7 linked regions of the Homo sapiens genome follow. The protein of the gene in region 3 interacts with the protein of the main gene of each other region in a pairwise test. Each region holds a gene or a part of one and is shown on either strand. Other genes may lie near its edges. The genes, in order: ISY1, CSNK1D, TGFBR2, SERBP1, ATXN3, ITGAV and ETS2.

Region 1 (4,350 bases), about 98 Mb from region 3:
GCAAGAGGAGAAAAGGAAGAGGAGGAGGAAGAGGAGGAAGAGATCAACATCTATGCAGTCACCGAGGAGGAGGTATTGGGGTTGGCCCCCTCTGGCACTCACTGCCATCTGTTCCAAGCCATGAAGTGTGGCAGGGAGGAAACTTGGCTCCCAAATACAGAGTCAGGGTTCACAGCCCAGCTTGCTCACCTGCAGGATGGCTGTGAAAACACTTGCGAGATTACAGGAGGGTTTCAGGAGGCAGCAGCCATGAGAGTGCCCTGCCGGCCGTGCTTTACACCAGGGCTTCCTTCTTTCCTTCTTAAAGACAGGCCCTTCTGCATACACTAGAATTAGACTGATAAACACAGAGGAAGCCATGAGCTTTAGCCCATGACCTCATCACTTCTGTTCACGTGTCAGTGGCAGTTGCTCTTCTGTAGTCTAACACCCCCATCTTTTTTATTTTTTTTGAAACGGAATCTGGCTCTGTTGCCCAGGCTGGAGTGCAGTGGCACAATCTTGGCTCACTGCAACCTCTGCCTTCCGGGTTCAAGCAATTCTTCTGCCTCAACCTCCCAAGTAGCTGGGACTACAGGCGAGTGCCACCACGCATGGCTAATTTTTGTATTTTTAGTAGAGACGGGGTTTCACCATATTGGCCAGGCTGGTCTCGAACTCCTGACCTTGTGATCCACCTGCCTTGGCCTCCCAAAGTGCTGGGATGACAGGTGTGAACCATTGCTCCCAGCCCTAACACCCCTGTCTTACACATGGAAAGAAACGCAGAGCAGAGAAGAAACTTTCTTAGAGGGTCATGGTTGGGGAATCTTTGCATATTTTCAGACCTTTTGCATATTTTCTGATCTTTTGCATATTTTCTGATTTATAGGAAATACTCATTATATATCTTAGTTATTACTTTTTATTATAGCCACCATGTAAGTAATCTTGACATATCTGTCTGTGCTACACCTTTTATTTTTTCTATGAAACATTACCAAAACTTCACTGCATTAAAGGAGGTATTCTGAAACAAGGAAAATTCAACATTTGAAATCTCTGCCTCCCAGGCAGAGCTCTTCTGCGGGGCCCTATATTTGGAGTCCTTGCTGCCTGCACAGGTCTAGGTGGATCTGATTTGCTGGACTGAGAGAAGGGAGGGGATCACCCACACATGGATGATGGCTCAGGTTCCACATGAGGAGCTTGCTGAGACATCACTGGTGAAGAAGCAGGCTCAGGTTTAGTGACTTAATGTCACATGGGATATAACAGGCCTGACGTTCCTGCTCATGTCCAGCTGGGCCAGCACTGGGGTTCAGTGCAGGTCTGAAGCAGGATGGCAGCATGCCTTAGGAGGATTTCCTCTAGGTACAAATATTCATTTGCTCTCTCAGCAGGTGTTTAATTCATGGCTCCTGTGAGCCAGCCGCATTCCAGGTGCAGGGGCATGGTGGTACAGAGGCTTGGAGTGTAGCTCATAGTCCAGGGGGAGGCAGTCCAGTAAGAGAGACAGTGAGCAACAGTCCCTCAATAGAGCCTGGTGCAGGGACAGCCTGCAGACACTCTGCTGGGAAGCTAAACCCTCAGCTGAGATTAGGATGATCCAGCGAACTTAACCAAGGAAGGAGGAGATGAGAGAGGGCTCCCAGCAGGGGCGCATCATGTGCTGAGAGATCCTGTGATGAGTGTGAGAGACAAAGGACAGCCCAGTGTGCTGGAGTGCAGAGAGTGGGTGCTGGGTGTGAGTGGAGGCTGATGGGGAGCTGGCGTTGTGGGGAAGAGCAGTGGAAACCCACAGCAGAATTTTTTTTTCTTTTCAAATAATTATAGAGATACAGGAAGTTGCAAAGAGTACAGAGAGATCTTGTGTATGCTTCACCCAGTTCCCCCCAGTGGTTGTATCTCATGTAGTTCTAGCACAGTAGTAAAACTGGGAGGTTGACATTGGCATATTGAGTGTGTGGAGTTCTGTGTCATTTGTCTCCATGTGTGGAGATCCATGTGGCCATCATGACAATCCAGATACAGAACTGGCCGGGGGTGGTGGTCACACCTGTAATCCTAATACTTTGGGAGGCTGAGGTGGGAGGATTGCTTGAACTCAGGAGTTCAAGACCAGTCTGGCAACACAATGAGGCCCTGTTTCTACCAAAAATAAAAACAATTAGCTAGGTGTGGTTGGACATGCCTATAGTCCCAGCTACTCAGGAGGCTGAGGTGTGAGAATTGCTTGAGCTCAGGGGGTTCAGATTACAGTGAGCTGTGATTGCACCACTGCACTCCAGCCTGGGAACTGTCCCCTTACTACAAAGATCCCTGGTGCCACCCCTTCACAGTTCACACCTCCCTGTCCTCACCATCTCTTCTCCTAGCTGAACCCTAACCTGTTCTCCATCTCTGATTTTGTCATTTCAGAATGTTTTATAAATGGGATCATGCTGTGAGTCACCTTTCACGATGGCCTTGACACTTAACATGATGCCCTTGCCATCCCTCTGGTTGTTGAGTTCAATAGTTCATTCCTTTTCACTGCTGAGTGTTGTTCCATATACAGAAAAGTACACACCTGCTAAATGTGTAGGTCACTGGATTTTCACAGGGTGAACACACACACACATAGCAAATACCAGTGAAGAAACAGAACAGGACCACAGCGCCAGAAGCTCACTACTGCCTCAGGGGTCACCCTCCTGACCTCTTGTGACCCATATATTTCACTTGTGTCTGAACTTTACATATGTGAGTCGTGTGTACTCTTTTGTGTCTAATGTTTGTGGGTATTTGTGTTGTGTCCAGATTGGGGTTTTGGCAGATAGGGTTGCTGGGAATTTTCTTGTTCCCGTGCAGTGTTTCTCTTGAGTACATGCTGAGGAGTGGAACCACCAGATCAGGGTAGGTATGTGTTTAGTGTTAGATACAACCAGTTTCTCCAAGTGCCAGCAGTGGATGAGAGGTTCCTCAAGAGGCTTTTGAAGCCATCCCCACTGGGAGCCAGTCAGGGAATGGGTCGTGCACGGTGTCTGGCAGAGCCCAGCAAACAGTGGACTCCTGACTCGCCACAAGACCCCTTCTCTCTTTCCAAGTCCGTGGTGTTTTCTTTGTTATTAGAAATTTGTATTGACTCATAGGCAACCTCTGAGCTGATTATTTTTCTATGCATGGTACATTCTTTTACATTTAAATTTTTTAAAATAGTGATACATTCACAAGGTTCAAAAGTGAAAAAGAATATAAAGATATTCCACAAAGATTCTCTTTCCTCACCCTGTCCCTCATCTACCTTGGTCTCACTGCCGTCAGTAATTTCTATTCTTATTTCCTCCTTAGACAAAAGGTAGCATAATATACAGCGTGTTCTATGGCTTTTTTTACTTAATCTTGTGGGTCAAGTGTCTTTCTATAAGTATAGAACTTTCTTAGTTTTTTTTTCTTTTAAATAGTTGCAGAGTAGTGTGTTTTATAGAGTTGCCAGCATTTATCTAGCTGGGCGCCTACTGATGGACTTTCGTTTGTTCTGTTTGTAGTCGGACGAGGAAGGCAGCCAGGAGAAAGGAGGGGACGACAGCCAGCAGAAGTTCATTGCTCACGTCCCTGTTCCCTCGCAGCAAGAGGTAGGACCACAGCTAAGAGCTGCCTGGGCGCCGGGGGCTTCTCTAAAGCAGACTTCACAGAGCACTGTAGTGGGTTTTCGTTGTCCTTCCTACCCATCAGGGCAGCTCAGGGTCCTGACCACATGACACCTGTCATTGTGTTCAGGGTGTGGGGTCCAAAAAGGGCAGGACCCTCTGCTCTAGGCCATTCTATCGTTCAAATGTTTCCAATGGGAGGGAGTTAGGACTCTTGGAGACTATTCTGCGTATTTAAATCAGACTCCTTGATGGACTTCTCCCACGGGGACTTCCTCCTGGCTGGGTCTGGCAGGGGTTGAGGGGCTTTGCTGAGGAGTGAGCCCTGCACTCTTAATTTCCACAGATTGAGGAGGCACTGGTGCGAAGGAAGAAAATGGAACTCCTCCAGAAGTATGCAAGCGAGACCCTGCAGGCCCAAAGTGAAGAAGCCAGAAGGCTCCTGGGGTATTAGGACCCAGCTGGGGCTCTCCTTGGAGTTCTTCCATCCCCCAGTGGTACCTCAGGACCCAGGGCTGCAGACACAGGCTGGTGCTGCAAGGGCTCCTGCCCCATTCTCAGCCTTCCTTCCCTCTCCTTGTCTCATGTTGACCGGAGGGTAGGGGTCTGTCCCTGGTCTTCCTGGTAGGTTTTGTACACATATTTTGCTACTGTGTGGATCCATTTATTTTTATTGTGGAGTGTATACAACAGGTTGCGAACTGGCTGCCTGTGTCTTATTTTGACTTGCACTGCCATT
Region 2 (4,350 bases), on a different chromosome or scaffold from region 3:
ACAGAGCCCAAGGGGGCAGCACGGCGAGGAGCAGTCGCCACCCCTCCCTGCCCGGCAGCAGGCCCAGGGGGCAGCTCTCCTGCTCTGCCAGCTCCCAGACACCCACAGGCTGAGAAAGAACAAACAGCCATCTCAAAGAAGTATTTTCACACAGTTCACCTCAACACAGTGAAAACTCTCAAGCTGATGAAATAAAGACCACATGGAAAGGGGAGGGAAGAAAGGTAGAAGTCATTATGAATTTATTATTTACACGATTGTTAAAGTACACAAATACAGTGGCGATACAAACGCACAGCTCGGAGACTGGCCGTCAGTGCACAGCTGACACGACGTCCTACCTACGTCTCCTGCACGGGGCGACGGGGACTAGATACTGGGCAAGGACTGTCACAAGCACTCCGAAGACGCGACCCGGCGAGGCTCGGGCTGGAACCCGGGCGCAGAGCTGCCTCGCACAAACGTTCTGGGCACTACATCGGGACCACAGATATTTACAAAGCAAGCTTGCGCCACTTCAGGCCACAGCGCGACGTCTCTCCGGGTGGGGGACGTCTACCTTCAAGAAGGGGTCCAGCAACAAAGAAAATCTCTTAACTCGGCTCTGACCCACCCCAACCTCCCTCTGTACTTCAACACACAGCTCCCACCCGCTCAAGGCCCCGTACTCCAAAACGCTTACACAGTAACCAGCCTAGGATTGAGAAAGCATCCATGGGCTCAGGCAGACGGCCAGCCAGCTGGTGGGGGGGTGAACAACTGTGTTCTGGGACGCCAGCCAGTTATGGCATCCGGGGAACTCTGGGGAGGAGAAGGGAGAACCAAGGTGCACACCTTCGAAGCCCTAGAGTCCAAAGGGAACATCGTCCATCGTGATGGGGTCCAGCCGAAGTGCCCACGAACACAGACTGCCCTGCGCATTGGGGTTGGGAGCACATGGCCACTGGCTACCGCCCAAGTGCTGCGGAGTGAGAGGCGAGAAGGCATCCTGGGAACCTCAGGGCACAGCAGCATGGAGCCTGGGGCAGCACCAGCTCACGGAGGCCACCTGCCTTCTGGTGGGACTCGGCCCCACGCACGCTGCTTCACTTCTGACCAACAGACACGCGCCCAACAGAAGGTCACAGCGCAGACTCTACTTTCTGGCCGTGAAGGTTCTGGGTCCGGTTGGGAGAGTCACCTGCTCCTTGGCACCTCAGGGTGGGTCCTTCTGGCCTGCCGGCTTTTCTGAGCTAGTCTTGGCACGTGGCAAGGACAGCCCCGCTCCTGGTTTTAAGCACAGGCATTCATACAGACGGAGTGCCAATCCGCACAGGAGCATTGAGTGCTGAGAAAATGGACTGAGTGCAAAGGCAGCAAGGCAACAAACACTACAGTAACCACCTCTCGGTTCACAGTCCTCTCCCAAGGGACCAGAAACGCATCTTCCACCTTGAATCCTGGGACTCCCAATTGTCCTGCTAGGGTCTCAAAGCCTCTGCTTCCAAGCTCTCAGCTGCCTGCCCACCTCCTGGGGAAGAAGCGCGCAGTGCTTTGCCTGGTAACACCCACTGCACCCCTGCCCCGCGGCAGCCTGCGGTCCCTAACTGCTCTCCGAGGGCCTCAAGAGTTCCTGACAGCAGGCATGTCAATTACGGGAGGAGGGAGGGTGAGACGCCAAAATCAGGTTGAAGAGGTCCCACCACACACGGGCACACACACACACCACGGACTTTTGATGAGAAATCTCCTCTCCAAAGCGGACAATAAAACACTGCAAAACAAACACAGCACACACCCTTGAGATCCACCTGCACCTTCTCCCTGCCCGACTCCACCTCATACACTAACTCCAAGCCAGCCTGTCTCAGAATTCCTTAGTCAACATTTTTTTTGTAAGACTGCAAAAACAGACAAGAAACAATAAAAAGACAGATTTTCTTTACACAGATTTAAGCCAATAATTTTTAGCAAAATGATACAAAACTGTCTTAACCAAGTAGAAGATTGGTAGTTACAGTGGAATCGTCAGGGAGTACAGGGCGGCCACCACTGGAGGGAGCTGAGGCCCTGGAAAAGGAGTCTGATTCTCTGCAATTCTCTCTCTGCTTTTCTTCCCAGCCCCGTTACAACCGAGTTCACGTGGGGGGCCGCAGTGCAGCCCCAGCGGTGGCAGCTCTTGGAGTCTGTCCGTTTAGTATGTTTCCCCCACGAGCGTCGCTGGGTGAGTGGCCTGGAGAGCTCCCGGTGTTAACATTTCGATCCTAGACCGGGGGACGTGTCACTAGTAAAGCCATTGGTAACAGAGTAGATCAGCCATGCATTGTCTGCCCTTCACAGCAATAAGGAGAGTTCTCATCGGTGCACGACAGACTGAAGACCACTGGAAGCCACCCGACCAGGAATCTGTCGGAGCCAAAGCACAGGAGAAGGTCAGCATGGGGCTGGGGGAGCCGGCCAGGCAGATACCACAGTGACGGTGCTGGGCAGGGAGGGGACGCACCGCCACCGCCTAGCCCCAGTCTAGACGCCTGCGTCCCCCGCCACGCACAGGGGCCTCTGTGGCTGGGACACGTGCTCAGCAGAACGAGTGACAGGAAGACGGGAAGGAGGAAGAGGCATGCAAGCAAGGTGCCCGCGGAGCCGGGCTCGGCAGGGTCGAAGGATCCGAGTGGAGCGGAGACGGGTGCTCCTGCCTCCCTTCCTGGAAAGGAACCTGGTGTTTGAAAATGGGTACCCCTCTCAGGGAAGACATGAAAAGCAGTTCCTGTCAACACATTTCCAGAGTGTGCACAGTGTGAAAACTGCAGCGGGTCTCCCAGCGGCACAGACCCGACAGAAGCGCAAGCCCCTGCTGGAAGGAGCCGCCGAGCGCGCGTGGCCGCCGAGGAGGGAGCACAGCGTGGACGCCGGCCATGCACCGACGGCGGGGAGTGAGTGGGCTGCGGCTGGAGGAGTTAATACAGACGAAGCTGCGTGGACAAGACGGCTGGGCAGAGACCAAGTGTGAAAAGAAACACAAAACAAGGACAGAGATAAATGAGACAGGAAGAGAGAGGCGACTAGAAAAGCTGGCATGGCAGAGACTGCCCAGAGTGTGGCGCAGCAAGAGCTTAGGAGCCCCCAACACCAAGCGTGGAGCCACCCAGCTGAGCAGGACACAGACGCCCCTCCAGGCACGGCCGACCGCAGACAAGGCAACTCAAGTGCTCGGGGCACCCGCCTTGCCACTCCTGCCTCACGGGTGGGCACCCAGGACAGGAGGAGAGCAACGGCACACGGAACGCAGTCACGGGGAGGCCACAGGCCAACAGGATGGTCTCCTGGGGTCACTCTGTTCCAAAGCTCTCTGTGGACAGCCTCCCCCCAAGACTGGGCAGCGGACTGCCGCCGCTCTGCACCCCACAAGAAGAACAGAGCAGAAGAAGCCTCACTCTACCTCCAGCACCTGGCATGCAAGCCCAGCCCACCTGCAAGCTCCCATGGGTGGGGCATGGTGGCTCCCACCCACCTGGCGCTGCTGCCTGGCGCCCGCCACGCGCACACTCACCCAGTGCTGCCTTCCGATGGGAGACGAGCAGCTACTTGCCGTGGTGTTCGAAAGGAATGCTATTCTGAGGTGGGGAAAAGACAGCTGTTGGTAAGCGTCCCGCTGGCCCCCTGACTACCTGTGTCGGCTCCATGTCCAGATGGGCATCCTTGCCTCAACCAGGTCCACAGACCGACAGGTGCCACCTGGGGGAGCCCAGGCACAGAGCACAGCCTCACTTGCCTCTCAGGACGGGCCTCTGGATGAGAGTGGTGCCCACTCCTCTTCTGGAATCACTTGCTCTTAAGGCCAACAATGGCATGGGACAGGCCCTCCTGAGTCTTCTCAAGCACTAAGAAAACCTGATCCCAGCAGGATGGCAGGTGCTGGGCAGCCCCACAACTGGGTCTCAGGGCACAGCCTGAAGGCAGGGGAGACGCACATCCTCGCCGGTACGACGACAGGGCTCAGGCCTAGTCCTGGGCAGGAGTTGATCAAAGCGAGTCATCGACTGTTGGAATGACAAGGCCTTCTTCTCACCAAGTAAAAACCCCAAACAGACTCAGCAACTAGATGGCCTTTAGGGCCCAGGCTACTGTAGCCAAAGAGCCCTGGCCGAACACCAACAGCCCGAAAAGAGAGGGGGCGAAGAGGGAACAGACCCAGGCGGAGTCCGGGCTGGGGCGGGGCCCTACAACTATGGGGGCCTCTGTGACCTACAGGCAGGCTGCCACGTGGTCTTCCACCCATCCACACCCAGCCACGGCCAGCAAGCCCTGGGAGACCTTCCTGCTGCCTCCTCCCATCTCCACAGGGCGCAAGGTCTCCTGAGAGGAGCAGAA
Region 3 (4,350 bases):
GTGGAAGTGCTCACTCAGTCGACAAGTACTTATTTTACTTTCAATGTTCAAGGCATTGTGCTACATATCTTGGGTGACCATGTGGATGTAGATTTGGACTTCAGGGAGATTGCCTTCCACGATGCTTTTAATACAAAGAAACCAACACAACTACAGCTAGTATAGAGCAGAAAGGACTGAGTACAACCATAAGAGAGGGAAAAAATAGAGGTAAAGTACTAACAGTGCTTGAAACAAAGAAAAAACATTTGCTGGAAGAGAAATGAGGATTGATCCAGGAGGAAAAAATGTGCTGAACTGGGAAGGATTTGAAGATAGGAGGAGAAATGCTGTCCATTAGCAAAAATGCTCAGGCAGGACAGAGCAGAGTATGCTCAAGGCAGACTCCATACTTTGGCTAGATTCCCTAGACCAGTGTCCAGAGTACAGGGCTGTTTGAGATAAGAGCCAGGAGATATGGATCAAGAGGTAGGGTGAGGCCAGGCTCAAGGTAAAGGGGATCTAGCACTAGCTCTAACTTACCTGCCCACTGTTAGCCAGGTCATCCACAGACAGAGTAGGGTCCAGACGCAGGGAAAGCCCAAAGTCACACAGGCAGCAGGTTAGGTCGTTCTTCACGAGGATATTGGAGCTCTTGAGGTCCCTGTGCACGATGGGCATCTTGGGCCTCCCACATGGAGTGTGATCACTGTGGAGGTGAGCAATCCCCCGGGCGAGGGAGCTGCCCAGCTTGCGCAGGTCCTCCCAGCTGATGACATGCCGCGTCAGGTACTCCTGTAGGTTGCCCTTGGCGTGGAAGGCGGTGATCAGCCAGTATTGTTTCCCCAACTCCGTCTTCCGCTCCTCAGCCGTCAGGAACTGGAGTATGTTCTCATGCTTCAGATTGATGTCTGAGAAGATGTCCTTCTCTGTCTTCCAAGAGGCATACTCCTCATAGGGAAAGATCTTGACTGCCACTGTCTCAAACTGCTCTGAAGTGTTCTGCTTCAGCTTGGCCTTATAGACCTCAGCAAAGCGACCTTTCCCCACCAGGGTGTCCAGCTCAATGGGCAGCAGCTCTGTGTTGTGGTTGATGTTGTTGGCACACGTGGAGCTGATGTCAGAGCGGTCATCTTCCAGGATGATGGCACAGTGCTCGCTGAACTCCATGAGCTTCCGCGTCTTGCCGGTTTCCCAGGTTGAACTCAGCTTCTGCTGCCGGTTAACGCGGTAGCAGTAGAAGATGATGATGACAGATATGGCAACTCCCAGTGGTGGCAGGAGGCTGATGCCTGTCACTTGAAATATGACTAGCAACAAGTCAGGATTGCTGGTGTTATATTCTGATGGGGAAACAAAACAAGGAGAGAAGGAGTTGGATGTGGTAGGTAAGTACTGTCAGGAAGTGGGTTCATGCCTGAGCATCTATAGATTTTAGCATCTGCATAGTTTTTGTAGATACGATATTGTTAATTTTTATTTCAGGGATGCAAGTGCATGCTCGTTCAGCCTTCCCTGCCTCTGGCCATCTGTTCGTCATCCCCTGCTCTTCCTTCAAACTTCAGCTTAAATGTCACTGCTTAAGAGAGGCCTAGAAAAACTTGGAAAACTGTCTTATTTTATACATTTTCATAGCACCTTATACTTTTCCTAGGTAACAATTCAGTACAACTTAAACTAAATGAACTATGACTCTACCTCTTGATTTCACATCTGTCTTTCCCTACTCTTGCCATCCCCCACGGACAGGGAACTCCATGCTGGAAGGTACCATGTCTTCTTCACTACTGTAAACTGCACTTAGCACACAGCAGGTCCTCAATATTGCCAAATAAAAAGACAAACCATTTACTGAGTGTTATCTAAGCTCAGGACATTGGGAACATGAAAAAAAATGACACAGCTTCTGCCTTCAAAAAATCTGCATGTATGACATCTGGTAAAAACACAGAGCGTGCCACAGTTTGCACCAAAATCTTTGCTCTTTTTCAAACTCCAACTTGTTCTGCTCTGATCAGCATTCAGGCTACCCTGGGCCCATGGGTGACAGGGAGAGGAGTCCATGGAAAGGATCTCTTTGGACAGTTATCTTACATCCACCCAACATTCCTCTTTTCAGTGTGCATACGAATTGTAGTTTCATGGAACTGAAATATTTAATAGCAACAATGGAAACATGGCCGCAAAGGTAAAACAAGTTAAAAATGGAAATGCTGCAGTTTTTTGACTTGGAATTCTGAAGCAGGCCCCTGTGGGCTGACAAGGAGAGTCCTTAGCACCAGATATCTAACTATAATATCTTGTGCCTCAAACTTTGTTTCATGTGCTGGCCTTGTTGGCTCTGGTGAAATAGTTTTCCTTTTTGGAAGAAGGACATGAATAGAAACAGACAGTGGACAGGAGAGAGCAAAAGGCAGCTCTAGTTCACTGGGAGCTTGTGCTGGGCTGCTTTCATTGGGCAAACATGCAGAATTCTATTGCTTTATGTGTCATCCATCTGCCCTCCAAAGTACCCATTAATGAGCAGGCCTCATGCTCAGATCCTAGAATCATTCATTAAATATATCACTACTGAGTGTCTATGATGGGCATGGCACTGCCCTCAGAGAGTACCCAGTAGAGGACTTAGGGCATATATACAAGTAAGCAATATATGGCATCTGGGATAGGGGCTAAATGTACAATGTAATCTATATATTAGTGGAATGTGGAAAAGCTTAGAGAAACATGGAAGGCACAGTAGCAAAAAACTGCCTTTAAGTTGGTCTCTGAAGAATGGGAAAAGTCAGTGATGAGTGGAAAGAGTGCTATGTTAAGGAGAAAGAATATATGATCTACTTAAGGAAGAGCAATTATCCCATACTGACCACTCTGCACCTGCGGAATAGAAAGGAAAAAAATGGGTAGGTGGTATGGAACCAAACTCCGTGTCAGAAAAGGATCTTTTGATTATTCATTTGTCAGTTTTCACCTACAGTAGGTGTTTAAAGAGAAAAAAAAAAGTGATGAGAATATAGTCCAGGTAGAATGAGGATATAACCAAATTCTCTCAAGGGGAACCCATTACCTAAATGATACTGATAAAGGAGTTAAGAAGAAATTACTTGGGCAGATAGTAAGGGTATGGAAGTCCTCGGTAAGGTGTTTCTTTTTAATGAAAAGCAGCCCCAAATCATTTTCTAACAAAGAGCAGCCTGTAAAGTTGAGCTTCAGACATAGACAGGCAAGCTGGGAGCTTGCACGGGTGAATGCCAGCAGGAACTAAGGACATGTTCAAGATGGCAGCTCCATCTTCCCTTCTCTTTGTCAGCCATGTGTACAACAAAGAACAGACCAGATGGTGCTGATCAACTGGAAAGCCCATTTGCATAATAAGATTAGGGTGGGGTGACCAGTCTTCCCCATGCACTATGTAAACGTCATACCTGATTGAACCAATCTGTGAGCCCTATGTAAATCAGACACCGCCTCTTCAAACGGGACTATAAAATCCAGCACATTCACCACTGGCCCGTCCTTTCCGCTTGGAGACTCCTTTCTCTACAGAGAGAATTGTTTCTCTTTCTCTTCTCTTCTGCCTATTAAACCTCCACTCCTAAACTCCTCATGTGTGTTCATATCCTAAATTTTCCTGGCTCATGATGATGAACCCCAGGTTATATACCCCAGTCTACATAGCTACTTCAGCATCTGATACTTTCTTTTTTTTTTCTCGAGATGGAGTCTTGCTCTGTTACCCAGGCAGCAGTGCAATGGCACGATCTCTGCTCACTGCAACCTTGCCTCCTGGGTTCAAGCCATTCTCCTGCCTTAGCCTCTATGCCCAGCTTTTTTTTTTTTTTTTTTTTTTTTTTTTTTTGTATTTTTAGTGGAGACGGGGTTTCACCATGTTGGCCAGGCTGGTCTTGAACTCCTGACCTTGTGATCTGCCCGCCTTGGCCTCCAAAAGTGCTGGGATTACAGGCGTGAGCCACTGCGCTTGGCCCAGCATCTGAAACTTTCATCTAACGAAACAGTGAGAAATGAAGCTGGTACATATCCATTTTTAAGGTTTATGTGTAATATGATTACTTGTTCTTAAGGTAAGTCTGAGTGGAAATGCCAACTTCCACTGACTATATATTCTAGATGAAAATCTTGGGTCTAGTAACCAGAGAAGTAACCCCAAGATATCAGAATTCCAGCAACCAAGAGGGAAAAAAAAAATCACCATTTTTTGGAAAGATATATGAATGCATTTTAAAAGTATAGGGAAAGTGAGAAAATTTGGTGATTGATCCTTAAAAACATAAATTCTTACACTGGGAGGCTTGGATTGGGACAAAGAACAGGCAAGAGTAGGGCAGAAATGGGGTGGGACAAAGCAATTAC
Region 4 (4,350 bases), on a different chromosome or scaffold from region 3:
GATCACTCCACTGCACTCCAGCCTCGGCAACAGAATGAAATCTTGTCTCAAAAAAAGAAAAAAAAAAAAAAAGATAGTGAATAACATACTCTGATCTTTGCTCTCTTCATACATTTAAAAACAGGCCAGTAATGCTATGTTCCAAATTCTACATTGGAAATAACTTCAAGATAGAACTAATGTTAAAATGGCCACATTTTCTAGTTTTAACTATCTCAAAGTAAAATTTGTACAGTTGTATGACAATGGTAAAATGACTAATCAAACAGAAATAACCACATTAAAATATTCTATTTTTCAAAGCGTTAGAGTCAAATATATACACATAAACCACTCTTTTAAGGGCTGGGTGCAGTGGCTCATGCCTGTAATCCCAGCACTTTGGGAGGCCAAGGCAGGAGGAACGCTTGAGCCCAGGAATTGGAGACCTGCCTAGGCAATATAGTGAGACCCTGTCTCTATTAAAAAAAGAAAAAAAAAGCATTCTTTCAAATACTCTTTGAGGGATGAGGGTACAGTAAGTCTCCCTTGTCAAAAACAAAAAGCCATCAAGTAACAGCATTAAATCTATGGGTTATCTTATTGGTAAAACTCCAGTGCTTTCAATTCTGGGTCATTACTATTACACGCAATACCACTTACTTATTTTCAGTGTCTGCCACTGGATGATGTTCTTCACCTTCAGGTGTTTCCTCAGTCACATTTGATTGATCCAAGTCACTGTAATTATAAGATATTTGTTTCTGAATGTATTTGGGGGACTCTCTAAGGAAAGAAAGAAAAAGAAAGGCATCTAGGTCCATTTACATGTAGCTGAAAAGTTCTTCATACAAAAATACCATAAGCTCTCACATTCTCTAACTCCTTTCTTACTAAATATACTCCCCAGAAGACGTCGAAAAGTAAACAATATAAACTAGTTAGTTCATATACTTCATACTTAAAAAGTAACAGAACAAGGCAGTTAATTATAAAATGAAGCTTTACTAGCTTATCAAATTTTGTAATGACAACAAAGTCAAAAGCTAGAATAGGAACTATTAAGGACACTAAGATAATCAGAATACCCAAATAACCTTATTGTGGGGTTTCAGGAAAAGCTACAAATACATATGGGGGGGAAAAAATGAGTAACAAATATATCGAAATATTAAAAAACCGGTCATTCAATATACTATAACCCAAACCCATCCCATAAGACATTATCTTGTAATATAGTAACTCTCAGAAGAGAGCATTCATTCTTATCTCAGAGACAAGTAAAATTTGACAGAGGTATGGATTAACCTCTAGTTAGGTATAGAATTTTTAAGAAAATCAGAATACCAACGTTAATTCGTCTTTGACAGTTCCCCAGTTGTGAGATCCGCTACCTCCACGTTTGTCCTCGTGCTTCAGGCCACTGTAATGTGAAAAAGAACTAACAAAACTGAGTTAACATAATACTCTTTAGTTCTAGAAATTCAAAGTTTGTTTATTAAATAGATTAAAATATTAAAGTAAAATAAAAACCAGTAAGACTTACGATCTATCACTTCCACTATGCCTATCAAATTCACGTTTGCCACGAGAATCAAATCCATCTCCTCGGCCCATTCCACGTCCACGGCCCCCTCGACCTCTTCCAAGACCACCACGACCTCGAATAGGTCGGTCAATAATCGGTCTATAATATAAACAAATAAATTATACTTCCATGGTTTCCAGAAGAAATGAGGAAAATTCATCCAAAAGATCAAAAATACAGAACATGTTTACTGGCTCAAAAACCAATAGTTAAATACATACACTTCAGAAAATTCAAAATAGTCTGTTTCTAAACACAAAGGAAACCAGAACAAGACAGCCTCCCAAAACAAGAAAACTATTTTAGCACTCTAAAGCATTACTACCAGTGCATATACTTTTCCACTGCTATTCATTGCACATATAATCCAGTCCATCACTATTTACCAATACACTTAAAAATTAAACACATCTAACTTGCATAAGTAATTTATTTGCTATAAACAATAAACCAACAGTATTTTCCTTCAACTAACAGTATTTTCCTTTTAACTCTGTATCTGGAGAGAGAAAGAAAAAGAAATTGGTTATCAATTCAACAAAGTGTTTCCATTACAAGAGACCTAAGTTTGAACTGTTACCCAAAGATCTAAAGCTTAACAATGCACACATACAGATGTTTCTGTGAAAAATTAATAGAAACAATTAGCCAGACTGCTACCTGGCAATTATGCCCAATTTATAGCTTAACATTAAAATGTGACTCTATAAAGTAACAAAATATGAAGACTTCTTTGGTTTACGCCTGTAATCCCAATATTGCAGGAGGACAGCTTGAGCACAGGAGCTCAAGACCAGCCAATGCAATATATATAGTGAGACCTCAGCTCTACAAAAAAAATTAGCAGTGTGGTGGCGTGACCTTGTAGTCCGAGCTACTCAAGAGGAGACTGAGATGAGAGGATCATTTGAGCCCAGGAAGCAGAGGCTGCAGTGAGCCAAGCTTGTACCACTGCACTCCAGCCTACATGTTAGACCAAGACCCTGGCTCAAAAACAAGAAACAACTTACCTATCAACTGAAAATTCGCCTCCTTCACCCTTTTCTTCAAGTGGCTTTTCGAATCTTCGTTCACGAGGTGGTCGCCTTTCTGGTCTTCTATCAATTATTTTCCCTTCACCCTGAAGTTGTTGATCAGGTCTTCTTCCAACTCGTCTTATTCCTAAAACGATAAGATAACCTGCATAAGCAAATTATTTTTGCAATCCAAAAACTTTAGGCCTGGACTGTCAAAAGCTGCTTCTCTTCCAATCCACTACCATTTCCTGTTGGAAAAAAGCAAACACTGGGCAACTCTAATGTGTAACAAAGTACCTTAGGAAAACTGCCATTTAAAGACAATAAACCTTCCAATCCATACCACCGACTAAATACATAAATAAATAAAATAAAAACAATAAACTTATTTTAAACTTCTATTTAAGTTTGCCAAGTTCTCCCCCTCAAAAGCATTTTCTATAACTGACTTGGAAATCATTTGGGCAACCATTATTCCCGTCACTTTCCAAGATAGTCTCTTAATAAAAACTTTTAAATTTAAAAAATTTTAGGCAAGCAATACATTTTGGCTTTTAAAATACCAAAGAAAATACCAGCAGCCATTCATAAATAACCAAGCAAATCAACACACTCACTAGATATGGCCCCTCACAAAAGTGAGGGCCGCACTATGTTATTCTATCTAATCTGAAAAAAAAATGCAATTAAGACTCATAATTCTATAAAATTACAAATCTGAAAGGAAAATATGGCATTTAGGATTATTAGAGAACATCACTTCAGTTTAAAACAGCCATTTAACCAGAAAAAGTGTCATCTTTTGGTCTTCTTAGCTACAGGCACACAAAAAGGGCCATCTTCCCCTATTAAAGTTTAAAATTTTATAGCATGTAAGTGTATATATGTTTGTACACACTCCCACATCCCTAAGTACTTCCAAGTTAGGAAACAGTTACTTATTATGCATGGAGAGAGTCCTCTAAAAAATTTGCCCTAACAACTATCTTTATTTTCAAAGAATCTTTAAAAACCAAATACACACACGTTAAGACCGCTTTTAAGCAACATGTAAGAAATAAGAAAACTTGTGACACTAAGTGATAGCTGAAGCATTTACTAATTTCCCCCTTTACTACTTTTTTCCTGTAATGTCTGAAACCCCACAAAGGCAACCAATTTAAATTATTGGTGCCCATAAGGATCAACAGATTGATGGTTAAATTAATGACTTTAAGATTGTTGGTATGCTCTAATTCCCAATTTCTGACAAAGTCATAAAGCAGCTGAGGAATTGGTTTTACAAGATTTTAAGCTGCTTCACTTTGGTTCTTTCTAAGAAAGTAGAACACCATCAAGACACACCCAGTTGTTCTGCTGCCTGTTAACTGGAGCCAAACAGTAACTATCAATCTCTTCAATAGAATTTTGAAGTTCATTCCCTGTAAATACTCAAGATAGACTACAAATATTAGACCTTACACCAAGGTATTTAAATAAATGTCATCAGTAATAAAGTGCACTGGGGTGGAGTTATGGAACCAGTCCTTGCAATAATATCCAAGCCAAACACACCCAAGTGAACAATAGTTGGCGTCCCCACCCAATATCAAGTTTACAGAATCTTAAAAACGTATTAAACCTACCTAATGAAAAAGACTGACATTTAAAAATGCAAGCTTCTTTTGATATACTTATCTATAACTTGCAAGCTCACTAACTGCACTAGTTTCAAGGCATTCATTCTTTTTTAGAAAATCCCTGGTCTACACTCTCAATGACATTCTG
Region 5 (3,500 bases), on a different chromosome or scaffold from region 3:
CCAGCACTCAAATTGTGATCTCCAAATACCATTACTAAAAGATGGCTAGGCAAGGTGACTCACGCCTGTAATCCCAGCACTTTGGGAGGCTGAGGCAGGTGGATCACTCGAGGCCAGGAATTCGAGACCAACCTGGCCAATATGGTGAAACCCTGTCTCTACTAAAAATACAAAAAAAAAAAAAAAAAATTTAGCCGGGGCCAGGCGCAGTGGCTCATGCCTGTAATCCCAGCACTTTAGGGGGCCGAGGTGGGCGGCTCACCTGAGGTCAGGAGTTGGAGACCAGCCTAACAAACATGGAGAAACCCCTTCCATCTCTACTAAAATACAAAATTAGCCAGGCATGGTGGCACATGCCTGTAAATCCAGCTACTCGGGAGGCTGAGGCAAGAAAATCGCTTGAACCCAGGAGGCAGAAGTTACGGTGAGCCGAGATCACGCCATTGCACTCCAGCCGGAGCAACAAGAGGGAAACTCCATCTCAAAAAAAAAAAAAAAAAATTAGCCGGTCATGGTGGTGCACGCCTGTAATCCCAGCTACTCGGGAGGTTGAGGCAGGAGAATCGCTTGAACCCAGGAGGCAGAGTTCAAGAAAAGGAGAAGGCACACTAGAGACAATCCTAAGGAAAAAATAAAAATGGGGAGGCAGCTGGAGTTTCATGGAATTAAGAGAGGATTTTTATTTTTAATCAATGGAAATAAAAAGCTTATTTTACTGCTTATAGGAATATTACAAAAAAAGGGGGGGGGAACTGATTATATAAGAGAGTGGAGAGATGAAAGCAGGAACATCTTGAGTAGGTGAGAAGAGCTGGGATCCAGCCCACAAGTGAGGGACTGGTTTTGGTTAGAGGTAGGGGACCATTCATCTATTTAAATAGGCTCAAAGCACAGGTGAAGATATAAGCAAATTGATAAATTTGCTGGTAGAAAGAACATAATTTTAATTGCTTCTATGTTCTCAGCAGAATGTAACGGAAAGCCACAAGGAAGGTGTGTAAGGGAGAGGAAAGTGCTTAAAGGTTTAAAGACATAAGCTGTGAAATTAGTCACCTTGGAGGGTGGCACATTATTTTTTATAAACTTCTTGGAGAGTGGTACATAATTTTTTATAAACACCTTGGAGGGTGGTACATCACTAAGAAAACATAGTAGAAATATCAGACAGCACTAAAGGCTCATCTGAATTTTGTGATTATAATAAATTTAAAGTAAAACCTTAGCTAGGTGTGGTAGCACAAGCCTGTAGTCCCAGCTACTCAACAGGCTAAGGCAAGAGAATCACTTGAGCCCAGGAGTTTGGAGCTGCAATGAGCTGTGATTATGCTGCTGCACTCCAGCCTGGGCTTCAGAAATAGGCCTAGTCACTTTGATAGATGGATGGGTGAATGGATGGATAGATCATTTAAGAAAAAAGTAAAACCAATCATCATGTTTTATGTTATTTTTTAGCCACGTCCAGCTACTCTGGTACAGGAATGGACAAGGCCAAGATGTGGTTTAACCAGGGTTGAGATTTTTGTCATTCAAGTATGATGGAGGGAGAGAGGGGAAACACGTTGAAGAATGCAATGGAGTGATTATGATGACGGATTACAGAAAATAAGCAGTAGAAGAAAGGAAGAATGCGTATAAAGGAAATGCTTGGGCCCCACAGTAGGGTTTAAAGAATGGCTGGAATAAAAAAACAGACAAAACATGGTTTAAAGATAGGAGGTGGTAGTTAAAGAGTAATATGCTTGCAATTGAGATTTGACAGTGGTTATGATTACTGGTAATAGCTAAGCAAGAGTAAGTGATTTTGAAACTAAGAGGCAGGTACTGGATTGATTGACGATACAGAAATAATTAAGAATGATAAAAGTAGTTGAAGTAGAGAAAAAGACAACGAGTCAGATCCTAAAATCACTGATGAAAAGAGACTTGTGGATGAGTGCAAAAGGACAAGGGATAGTTTAATCTAGGGGCATGTATTTCTTTTTTTTTTCTTTTCTTTTTTTTTTTGAGACGGAGTCTCGCTCTGTCGCCCAGGCTGGAGGGCAGTGGCGCGATCTCAGCTCACTGCAAGCTCCGCCTCCTGGGTTCACGCCATTCTCCTGCCTCAGCCTCCCGAGTAGCTCGGACTACAGGCGTCCGCCACCACACCCCGGCTAATTTTTTGTTATTTTTAGTAGAGACAGGATTTCACCGTGTTAGCCAGGATGGTCTCGATCTCCTGACATCGTGATCCGCCTGCCTCAGCCTCCCAAAGTGCTGGGATTACAGGCGTGAGCCACCGTGCCCAGCCGTTAGGGGCATGTATTTCAAAGAAACTGGAGTTTATAAGGAAGAACAGTGGCCTAGAAGAGGCAAAGAAGAAAAACATCTATCCCTCCTCTCAGCCGTGTGATATGTGATGTATAAAAGAAAAAGCCATTACTTAGAAGGGCTGCAAAGAAAGCAGCATCCTCAGAAGAGGAAGGGCCAGGTGTCAGTGAGAACTCTAACTGAACAGCGTCACCCAAATCACAGCCTATCACCACGTCAAAACTAAAGATTGTTTCACTGCCACTGCCAGAAAAACAGTTTTATCACACTGTCATCTAATGTGCCTGGTTATTTAACTACTTCGAAAGGTAACATTACAAAATGTTCAGCCGTTACTTACCTTCCTGTTGTAATTGAGCCAAGAAAAGTGCAAGATATGTATCTGATATTAATTCTGGACCCGTCAAGAGAGAATTCAAGTTAAACCACTGGAAAAAAATTGTCAATATTTAAGTTAGTGTATATTATAGGTAATAAGGAAGTTTCACATGTTAAGAATAGATACAACCCATCAAAGCTTAGTAAGATTGTTTAAACTCTGGAAATATTTCAAGTTGAGCTCTTTTCTTTGACTGAATAATATGATCTTAAAAACTACAAGAGAATACTGCAGATTTATCACTATTAAATACTTTTTTTTTTTTTTGAGAAGAGTCTCACTCTGTAACCCAGGCTGGAGTGCAGTGGCATGATCTCGGATCACTGCAACCTCTGCCTCCCAGGTTCAAGTGATTCTCCTGCCTCAGCCTCCCAAGTAGCTGGGACTACAGGTCTGCACCACCACACCCAGCTAATTTTTGTATTTTTAGTTAGAGACAGCACATTTGCCACATTGGCCAGGCTGGTCTCAAACTCCTGACCTCAAATGATCCGCCCGCCTCAGCCTCCCAAAGTTCTGGGATTACAAACATGAGCCACTGCACCTGGCCTCTGCTAAATACTCTTTTTTTTTTTTTTTTTTTTTTTTTAGACAGAGTATTGCTCTGTCGCCCAGGCTGGAGTGCAGTGGCGCGATCTCGGCTCACTGCAAGCTCCGCCTCCCGGGTTCATGCCATCCTCCTGCCTCAGCCTCCCGAGTAGCTGGGACTACAGGCGCACGCCGCCACACCCAGCTATTTTTTTGTATTTTTAGTAGAGACAGGGTTTCACCATGTTAGCCAGGATGGTCTTGATCTCTTGACCTTGTGATCCGC
Region 6 (4,350 bases), on a different chromosome or scaffold from region 3:
TATAGGCATGAAATGATGGTAATCAGGTGTACAAATGGATGTTCATTAAGTTTTCCTAAGCATACCTTCATGTGCAGACTTGCATACTGGTGAAATGCTACAGAAATGGCAGAATAATATAAAAGGAATGTGTCAATATCTACATGCTAAATTTGTGAGGGAAAAAAGCTGATGAAGTTTTTCATCCAAAATGCCATCTCGATATTAAAGTTATCATTAAGATATTTAAGTTTTTTAAAGAGAACAATGAAGAGATAGAGAAAGTAAAATGACCTTAGACATATGTTAAAGTCTTACGAGGAAGCTGTGTAGTGAAAAAGAAATACTTGCATAGAAAACTGGGTACAAGGTGATAAAAGATGCTATATAAAAAAATTAAGGAATAAAAAGCAACACAGGCCAGGCACGGTGGCTCATGCCTGTAATCCTAGCACTTTGGGAGGCCAAGGCAGGAGGATCACTTAAGGTCAGGGGTTCAAAACCAGCCTGGCCAACATGGTGAAACCCCATCTCTACTAAAAATACAAAAGTTAGCCAGAAATTGCTTGAATCCAGGAGGCGAAGGTTGCAGCAAGCCAAGATTGTGCCACTGCACTCTAGCCTGGGCAACAGAGCAAGACTCCATCTCAAAAAAAAAAAAAAAGCAACACATACTACAAAAAACAAAGTTAATAAAACACTCCATAAAAATAATTGTTACTTGAATTTCATCTAAGAATGACTAATGAAAGTGTACAACAGCTTAATTAGGGTAAGAGAACTGACAGACCAGAAAAAAAATGTTTGTGATCTAAGCAGCACTATCTAATGGAAACAGTTTGGAATTAAAATTTACAAACACTGCAAATCAATTGAAGCAGTAACTTTGAATCTCTGTTCCCTTCTATCGAATGGCAATAACAATGCCCACTGTAATTACTTTAAAAAGAAACTTTCTGAAGGTGATAATAAATAAATGCAAACTTAGAAAATCTGAAACACCACGAAAATACAAGATGATGGGATTTAATTATCATCTTCGTCCTGAAAACAATTGATGCCATTAATAAGTTATTCCCTAGAAGAGTAGAAAATGTAAAACTTAAATTCTGTCTTTAAAAGGGCTTTTCTTTCCTCAGTGTTTTCAAAGGGCCATTAATGGTCAAGTGATTAACTCAAATGAAGAAGAAAAAGAGAAAGAAGGGTAGAAAAGCCAGCTTAAACATTTCTTATCAATGGTGGCGAGGTGGGGAGAATACACAGGGTGAGGTAAGGTTGACAAGAGTTTTCACTGATTAGCAGTGTAAATCTGAAGCTGAGTGACTTAATTTCCTATGCCCGCAACTCTCTCCTGATAGACTCCATTTCCCTCCAAAAAGTATGTCCAAGAACATCATCAGAATCCCCATCCTCAACATTTTTTTTTTTAATGACTGGAAACACTGCCATTAAATAACTCTCTGGGACTTCAAAATTAAGGTTTACATCCATGCCAAGAAGTGCTAAAATATAAAGGATTGAGTTTGGGAGAGAGGACAGAAAGATGGATGGAAAGGAAGAAAAGAGATAGAGGAAAGGAAAAAGAGAGGAAGGACAAGAGACAGAAAAAGAAAAAAGAGAGAGCGATACAGAGGGAGAGGTATCAGAGGAGGCAGTGAGAGGGAGACAGACAAGAGGCTCAGAGGAACCAATCAGGAGGATGGCCTTTGGATGCACTCCCTATCCAAACTGTACTTGAAGGGCAGTTGATTCACGGAATGTGACCTTGACAACCAAGGAGGGGCAACCTGCCAAACAATGACAAGTCCATTTTTCAAACCCTCCAAATAAACTAACTTGTTTGTCTGCTTTCAGCACTGACCTTTCTAAGATAAAGCATGTTTAATATATTTAGCTGACTCTGAGTTGACCAATGAGCCTTCACCAAAAGGAACTTCTGAAAAACTATCATACATGTATATAGAAATAAATGTGTATGAAATAGTACTGAATGTTATTTCAAAGCTACAATTCCAGTTTCAGATTTACTTTTCATTTTTTAAAAAATGCTTTTTTGAATCAAAAGAAAAACAAAAATGCCAGTCAACAACTACTGTAAAACAGAAGCAGTAACTACAATTTCCACATATTTTCCCTTGTCTTTCATAATGCTCTATGAAACATCATATGTCCTTAATCAGAAGTAATATAGGATTTGCTTTCTAAATAACAAAATTATAGCCTAGTTTTATGTCCCCTAATATACATGTATATTATTTATGATGAGAAAAATCAGCCAATATAATCAGAGCTACTCTGAAGTTTATAAAAAATGAGCTGGCATCATTTTGTAAAGTGTTGTGAAAAGGGTTAAAATGGTAAGAGTAGAAATGGTACATGAAGTTTTAAAAATACACACAGGTTGGGACAGATTGCAAGTGACCTTAATCCATGTTAAGCGGTTTGGACTTTCTTGCTGGCAATGGAAGCTTTATTATGAAAATTTTTGCAACAGAATACCAGGATGAAAAAGGATGTTACAGAAAGATAAAATGAATAGAAACAGACAAGATGTTCTGCACGTTTAAGAGCCAAATGATGGGCAGAGGGATGGGGGAGGACCTGAGTGCCACTGACTATGCTTGTCATAACTACACTGAAATAAGGAGTAGAAAGCAGAGATGGAATCAAGAAAACCTTAAAAAGGAAGAATTTCTAGGAGCTTCTGCCTGTTGACTAATCACTGACTGATATTAAGGTGGTGAAGTAGGAGAAACACAGAAAAATAGAACATGAGAGGGAGGAATATGAAAGTATTTCCAAGGTGACAGAGAAAATGATGCCAGCATTAATAGAAACAGAGGTGCAACTAACATCTCTTGGTGAAGACTTTTTAGTCAAATTGAGTTAAGACAGGCTAGTCAACGAGAAATGATTCACAGGCCAGGCCACTGGAATATCAAGTCAGAGATCTACTTTTAGATTTAAGATACAGCCAGGGCAAGAGTTTTATTTAAAAGGCTTTCCAGATATTGCAAACATGAAGTTAGGACTGAGAACCATTGAAGGACCTTCTGCTTCTAAGGCATACACATCTACACATTGCCAACTGTAAGATAAGGCTCCATTAGCGTTTAATGGGGGGAAAGGCAAGAATCCAGTGTCATTCATTATAGCATTATTTTAAAATAAAGAAATACATAAAATGAGAACTGTATAACATATATTTGAAGAATGAATTTTAAAATTGTTCAGTTATTTTCTTTAAAAATTCAATATTTGAATTAATAAAAGTGGGATTTGAATTTTACACCCTGTCTTCGGATCCTTCCCTTCCTTACCCTCTACTCACACCAACCTACTCAAATAACTAGACTGCAAACGGTTCTGCCTCCATTTCCTCCTCATCTGTAAGAATGAGTATATCTGCTTCCCCTTACTTCCCCCCGGTGGTGTGGGCTATAGAATGAAATGAGATATAAGTGCTTAGCAAATTATAAAATATGTTTACCAAAATAAGATGTCATCATTATAATTAAACCTAGGATGTAATTTTTAATTTTTCCAATTAGTCTCCACAAGAAAAGTATGACTCTAATTATTAGCCTGCATACAATCTTTAAATTTTATGTAAGTTTTACAACATAGCATAAATAAATGCTTATAGAAAAAAAAACAGAATGCGAATGTTTTTTCATAATTTTGAAAATCACTATATTTGTGAATTTTTACTTCGAACCTGACTCATTTCTGGAGTGATTTTTTGAGGGGCCGCCTTAACATTTTGCTTAGTACTTTGTCCTTCCCTTTAATAAATATTGATTCATTAATTTTCACAACAAAACTATGAACTATGCAGATAATTCAATAATAATTTTCTATAAAGAGAAAAATTAGGCATAAAATAATTCTACAGCTTCCCCAAGGTATGTGGACACCAAAACTGGAAAAAGCAACAGGAGTGGACGTCACAACCACTGCTCCTCACAAATCCTTCTCCCCTCAGAAGAAAGGCGCTCTTGAATTGACAAATACTTTTTCATTATGTGGCTTTTTTTCTTTTAAAAGTTTATGGTAATACCAAATAACAATAAATCCAACTGGTAATATTGGAAATGGCATCCCAAGTACCTTGGATTCCAATGCTTGTTAAATTTAAAGTGCCCTTCTAGAAAATTCAGCAAAATTTTACATAAATTTTTGTTAAATCTGAAAAGCTCAGTAAGTAAAAACCTGTGTTTATATACGTTTTGTTTAAAAAGAAAAAAGAAAAAAATTCAAGGTTGGTTTCCATTTTTTAAGTTACCTATACCTAGAGCTCTGTAGTCTATCGGTAACAAAGTTGCTGATGAATATTTCAAAATATTATATGCAACCAAACCCAAGTTCAAT
Region 7 (4,350 bases), on a different chromosome or scaffold from region 3:
TTTTCGCTAAAGTACTGGAAATACCTGTTTCTAAAAACAGCTTTATATTTGTCCACTGCCTAGAATAGCTCTCACCCAAACCTCAAAAATAAGAGCAGATAGATTTTAGAAGCAAGAAAAGGTAAACAGTGCCCATATTATTTGAGACTGGCTCTGCTGCCCCTCCCTAAGCCAGTTTACATTCTTTGAGATTCTTGGAGTGGGTGAGTCAGGGCTGAAGACTGCACAGGCCATGTCCCCTGCTCCAACTATTCCTCAGAACGTCCCAGGTGGAGGGAGTGGCCTGTCAATTTTCACTCATTCCATGGAGCTCTGTGTACATGAAAATTCCTCCAAGTGTGGCTTTTGTCGAATTCAGAGATACAGCAAGCCACGCATAAAACATGGAGTGTAGAGCACTGGTGTACCTAGCTTAGAAACACCCTCGGTGAATGTGGTACTGTGGCTCGAAAGGAAGCAAGGGACAGGACCCAGGAGACTGGGCGGCCAGGCTCTCGGAGTTCCACACACACCTGTGAAGCCGGCCAGCACAGCTGCAGGTATAACTGGTTTGCCTTGCTCCACTGGGTCACTCCTCTCTTGGATGTAATCCTTGAAAGACATGGTTGGCTTATTGAGGCAGAGAGACTGGCTGCAGTCATCTTCGAAGCTCTCGAAGGAAGGAACCCGTTGCACATCCAGCAAGGACGACTGGCTGTTCCAGGACTGGAGGAGGGAGTCTGAGCTCTCGAAGCTGTCCGCACCGTTCTCAGGGGAGTCGTGGTCTTTGGGAGTCCCTGGCAAAGACAACCAAACACATACTTTGATTCCTCCAGGACACAGTTGGTCTTGGGCACGACCATAGCATCACCAACCACTACCAGTGCAATCATGCACCTGCTGGTGTAGAACCACTCAGACTTCTCAAAATGCTCTCTACTCAGGTGCTTATTCCTTAGGGTAACTATACTACACAAATCCTATCTTCCATCAACAGTAGAATGAATAAAATTCTTATAATGGAATACTATACAGCGATGAAAAAGAACACATGGCTGCTACATCCAACAACATGCATGAATCCCAGACATGATGAGTAAAAGACAAACACAAAAGAAAACATGCCTTATGATTCCATCTATGTAAAGTTCAAGAAAATCAAAACCTAATCCGTAATGATAAAAGTCAGAATCGTTCCCTTCTGTCGGGGGGACATTATTGATGGGAAGGGGTACGAAGGAATCTTCCAGGCTACTGGAAACTTCTCTATCTCCATCTGGATGGTTATTACATGGGTATACATACATACACAAATCCAACCAGCCACATGACCTGAGACTTGTGCACTGTATTTATGTTACATCTCCATAAGAAGAAATGTCACATTCCTGCATCGCCTCCATAAATATCCCAAAGTGTGGAGAAATCTGGCTGTAAGAGCAGGGACTGTTTTGTTTACTCAATGCCTGCAGTACCTGGGCCAGTGCCTGAAACATATTAGGGGTATGCTTGTTGGAAATCCACTTAGAACATGGGCTTTGACCCCCTTCTCTAATGGCTGAATCCAGGAAGTATTTATTAAGAGGTTCATTATGGCTCTGGGGTTCTCAGAATCAAAGCAACAGCCTTGTTGAAAGATGCTTCCAATCTTACCAGAATTGTTGGTGAGCAAATTCAAGTTGCTGCCTGGGAAGTCCTGACTGACAGAGCAGTAGGTGACGCTGACGGAGCTGAGCCGAGACTTGGGGAACATCTGAAACTCCTGCTCAGAGCTGAGTACGCTGGGTGTGGAGGCCGGACACATGCTGTCCAGGAGGCCGCCTTTGGGGTAATTCTGTGTCTGCATTCCATAGGGCGCCTGCTCTGTGCCAAAACCTGGAACAGAACAATCGGACGGCAGAGCTCTTAAAGTCAGTGTTACCCCAGTAACTAACCCCTACGAGCAAATGACAGGTGAGCACTCCGCACACTCCAGCCCTCTGCAGAACCTCAGTGGAGACCCGGGCTTTGGTGGGGGTCTGTCACCAGGCCTTCTTCTCAAACCATTCAGCTTCTCAACCAGCAGCCCTCTGCCAAAATGACTGCAGCCTCTGCAGGCAGGACTCAATGTTCCTATTTCTACAACCCTAGTGCTTTCATGGGACCTTCAGGAAGACAGGGCTCACTGGCTCTTTTAGCTTCCGAGGAGAGTAAGGCTCAGACAGACCAAGTGACGTGTCATGTACTGTGTGATTCATAAGGGCAGAACCAGGCCATGAACCCTGTGTGCTGAGGCACAGCCCACTCTGCTTTCTGCTCCTTCATCACACCGCTCCTGTCTCTGTTCATTGCAGAATAATTTATTTTCTGGAGAGGGAAGGAAGCTCTCTGACTCTGATTCAGGTTCAGGCAGGCACAGGGTGTCCCACTGTCATGTTCAGAAAGACCTCCTGAGCAGGAAGCCCCCAGTGGGGCAGAGAGGTGGGCTTCACCGGGTCTGAATGGTGGAGCTGGGGCCAGAGAGAAAACACTGGGCCGGACCAACACCACCCAAGCCTGCTGTTCCGAGGACCCCTCCCTCGCTGGCCTGGCCAGACCCTGTGCCCTCCCCAGTATCAGCAACCAGAAGAAAGGACCCAGATTCCATGACAGCTCTTTAAGCTCCCAAGTTCAGAGCCAGTTTACAAATTGCTTTTCACGCACTCTGTGCCTGCCGCCTCTTGTTTGCTACACTAAACCAACATTACTGGTGACTGCGGTAATCAGCTCACTTCGTTCTGCTCCTTGCTCTAAGAATTGCCTGGACTAGCACTAACAGTGCTGACCTATGGAAGATCGTGTGAGCCACTTAAGCAACTGCGAAAGTTCTAGTGGCCATATTAAAAAAGCAAAAAGAAACAGGTGAAGTTAATTTTCTTATTTTACTTGGCCTCATATAGCAATTATCATTTCAATATGTAATCAATACATTAAAAATTATCAGGGAGACATTTTATATTCTCTGTTTCATACTAAGACTTCCAAATCTGGTGTGCATGACTATACTCTTCCTACACATCTCGATGTGGACCAGTCACATTTCAATGGCTTATAGCTCAACACCCACGTGTGGCCACCATAAGAGACACACAGGTCTAGGTGGCCCCTTAGGAGCCTACAGTAGAGAGATTCCAAGTCTACTGGGAAGACTGAAGACAAAGTTCTTAAGGGCAGAATCAATCGGACTGACCTAATGTATTGCTGTTAATCCAATGAGGAACGGAGGTGAGGTGTGAATTTTCTTCATATTGATCTTCTGTCTTTTCTTGGTTTTCTGAAAAGCAGACACAGGAGACGTAAGATGGCAGATGTAGGTGAAAACTACACAGAACAAATTGACTTTCTGAATTCCTGTGAGATGATAATTTTAGAATGATGAGATGCACGGAGTGCTTCACATTTAATCTCATGGTGCTCCACGTCCCTGCCTGTCTTTTTCAAAAAACGAGAGAAAGCAACCCATTTTTCCAATTACTAAAATAAATTTTCCAAAATGAATGATGTCATTGGCAACACTAAATTTTCTATCGCAAAAGGTCCAGATGGTGTATTGAATTCATTCATGCATTCAAGAAACAGTTAAGTATTTATGAAATGCCATCTGTACCAGAGGCTGCATACAGGAAATTAATAAAATGGATGGTGTCTGCCCCCGTGAAGCTTACAGTTCCACTGCTTCCAAACCTGCACGCTTCCCCAGGGTGTGGGAAGTCTCCAGGGCTGTGGGAGTCTGGGATGGGGAACACATGTGCCCAAGAACTTTGAAAGGGAAAAGGTTTGTGCACTGTGTATGCATACTTACTACGAATATATTACAAAGTGCACGTCCACCCGGAAACCCAAATACACACAAACTCACAGGCCCGAGGAATGGTAAAACAGGCCCAATTTGCCAATAAACAGATCACCAGAAACTTGGTAGAAAAGCCCTGTCCAAGTTCAGAAGAAATGAGGGTCTTTAAAAATGAGTTTCCCTGGCCCTCAGACGCCGTAACTAAAAAAAGTTAGCTGTTGAATCCTAGGTGTTTTCGAGATTCTGAGTCTACAGTTGATGCTGAAATTCAGTGTGTTTAAAATCAGTCAGGTGAGGACTAGTTCCCTGAATTCTATAAACATGCTTATTTTCTTATATTTTTTTAACCTAAATAATCCCTACTGTATTTTATTTCTTTCCCTCCCTCCCTCCCTCCCTCCCTCCCCTCCCTCCCTCCCTCCCTCCCTCCCCTCCCTCCCTCCCTCTTTCTTTCCTTCCTTCCTTCCCTCCCTCCCTCCTTCCTTCCTTCCTTCCTTCCTTCCTTCCTTCCTTCCTTCCTTCCTTCCTTCCTTCCTTCCTTCCTTCCTTCCTTTCAACAG

The links.
Region 1: the proteins of TGFBR2 (region 3) and ISY1 interact in binary tests that used the Homo sapiens proteins (3 or more experiments, as listed by UniProt).
Region 2: the proteins of TGFBR2 (region 3) and CSNK1D interact in binary tests that used the Homo sapiens proteins (3 or more experiments, as listed by UniProt).
Region 4: the proteins of TGFBR2 (region 3) and SERBP1 interact in binary tests that used the Homo sapiens proteins (3 or more experiments, as listed by UniProt).
Region 5: the proteins of TGFBR2 (region 3) and ATXN3 interact in binary tests that used the Homo sapiens proteins (3 or more experiments, as listed by UniProt).
Region 6: the proteins of TGFBR2 (region 3) and ITGAV interact in binary tests that used the Homo sapiens proteins (3 or more experiments, as listed by UniProt).
Region 7: the proteins of TGFBR2 (region 3) and ETS2 interact in binary tests that used the Homo sapiens proteins (3 or more experiments, as listed by UniProt).

What each region holds. Positions count from the first base shown.
Region 1 is NC_000003.12:129,129,796-129,134,145, reverse strand, and holds part of ISY1 (pre-mRNA-splicing factor ISY1 homolog), read left to right. Parts: coding exon 1-72; intron 73-3,509; coding exon 3,510-3,596; intron 3,597-3,957; coding exon 3,958-4,065; 3' UTR 4,066-4,350. Other genes in the region: ISY1-RAB43 protein, read left to right, coding at 1-72, 3,510-3,596, 3,958-4,058. UniProt on the Homo sapiens protein: Component of the spliceosome C complex required for the selective processing of microRNAs during embryonic stem cell differentiation. Required for the biogenesis of all miRNAs from the pri-miR-17-92 primary transcript except miR-92a.
Region 2 is NC_000017.11:82,242,447-82,246,796, forward strand, and holds the end of CSNK1D (casein kinase I isoform delta), read right to left. Parts: exon of another isoform or gene 4,026-4,350; intron 4,020-4,025; coding exon of another isoform or gene 3,918-4,019; exon of another isoform or gene 3,752-3,917; intron 3,594-3,751; coding exon of another isoform or gene 3,561-3,593; exon of another isoform or gene 3,530-3,560; intron 2,386-3,529; coding exon 2,335-2,385; 3' UTR 221-2,334; downstream 1-220. UniProt on the Homo sapiens protein: Essential serine/threonine-protein kinase that regulates diverse cellular growth and survival processes including Wnt signaling, DNA repair and circadian rhythms. It can phosphorylate a large number of proteins.
Region 3 is NC_000003.12:30,668,610-30,672,959, reverse strand, and holds part of TGFBR2 (TGF-beta receptor type-2 isoform B precursor), read right to left. Parts: intron 1,323-4,350; coding exon 523-1,322; intron 1-522. UniProt on the Homo sapiens protein: Transmembrane serine/threonine kinase forming with the TGF-beta type I serine/threonine kinase receptor, TGFBR1, the non-promiscuous receptor for the TGF-beta cytokines TGFB1, TGFB2 and TGFB3.
Region 4 is NC_000001.11:67,423,558-67,427,907, forward strand, and holds part of SERBP1 (SERPINE1 mRNA-binding protein 1), read right to left. Parts: intron 2,729-4,350; coding exon 2,578-2,728; intron 1,667-2,577; coding exon 1,526-1,666; intron 1,421-1,525; coding exon 1,331-1,420; intron 766-1,330; coding exon of another isoform or gene 721-765; coding exon 643-720; intron 1-642. UniProt on the Homo sapiens protein: Ribosome-binding protein that promotes ribosome hibernation, a process during which ribosomes are stabilized in an inactive state and preserved from proteasomal degradation.
Region 5 is NC_000014.9:92,086,083-92,089,582, forward strand, and holds part of ATXN3 (ataxin-3 reference isoform), read right to left. Parts: intron 2,736-3,500; coding exon 2,648-2,735; intron 1-2,647. UniProt on the Homo sapiens protein: Deubiquitinating enzyme involved in protein homeostasis maintenance, transcription, cytoskeleton regulation, myogenesis and degradation of misfolded chaperone substrates.
Region 6 is NC_000002.12:186,592,746-186,597,095, reverse strand, and holds part of ITGAV (integrin alpha-V isoform 1 preproprotein), read right to left. Parts: intron 1-4,350.
Region 7 is NC_000021.9:38,815,929-38,820,278, reverse strand, and holds part of ETS2 (protein C-ets-2), read right to left. Parts: intron 3,272-4,350; coding exon 3,188-3,271; intron 1,855-3,187; coding exon 1,633-1,854; intron 777-1,632; coding exon 513-776; intron 1-512. UniProt on the Homo sapiens protein: Transcription factor activating transcription. Binds specifically the DNA GGAA/T core motif (Ets-binding site or EBS) in gene promoters and stimulates transcription.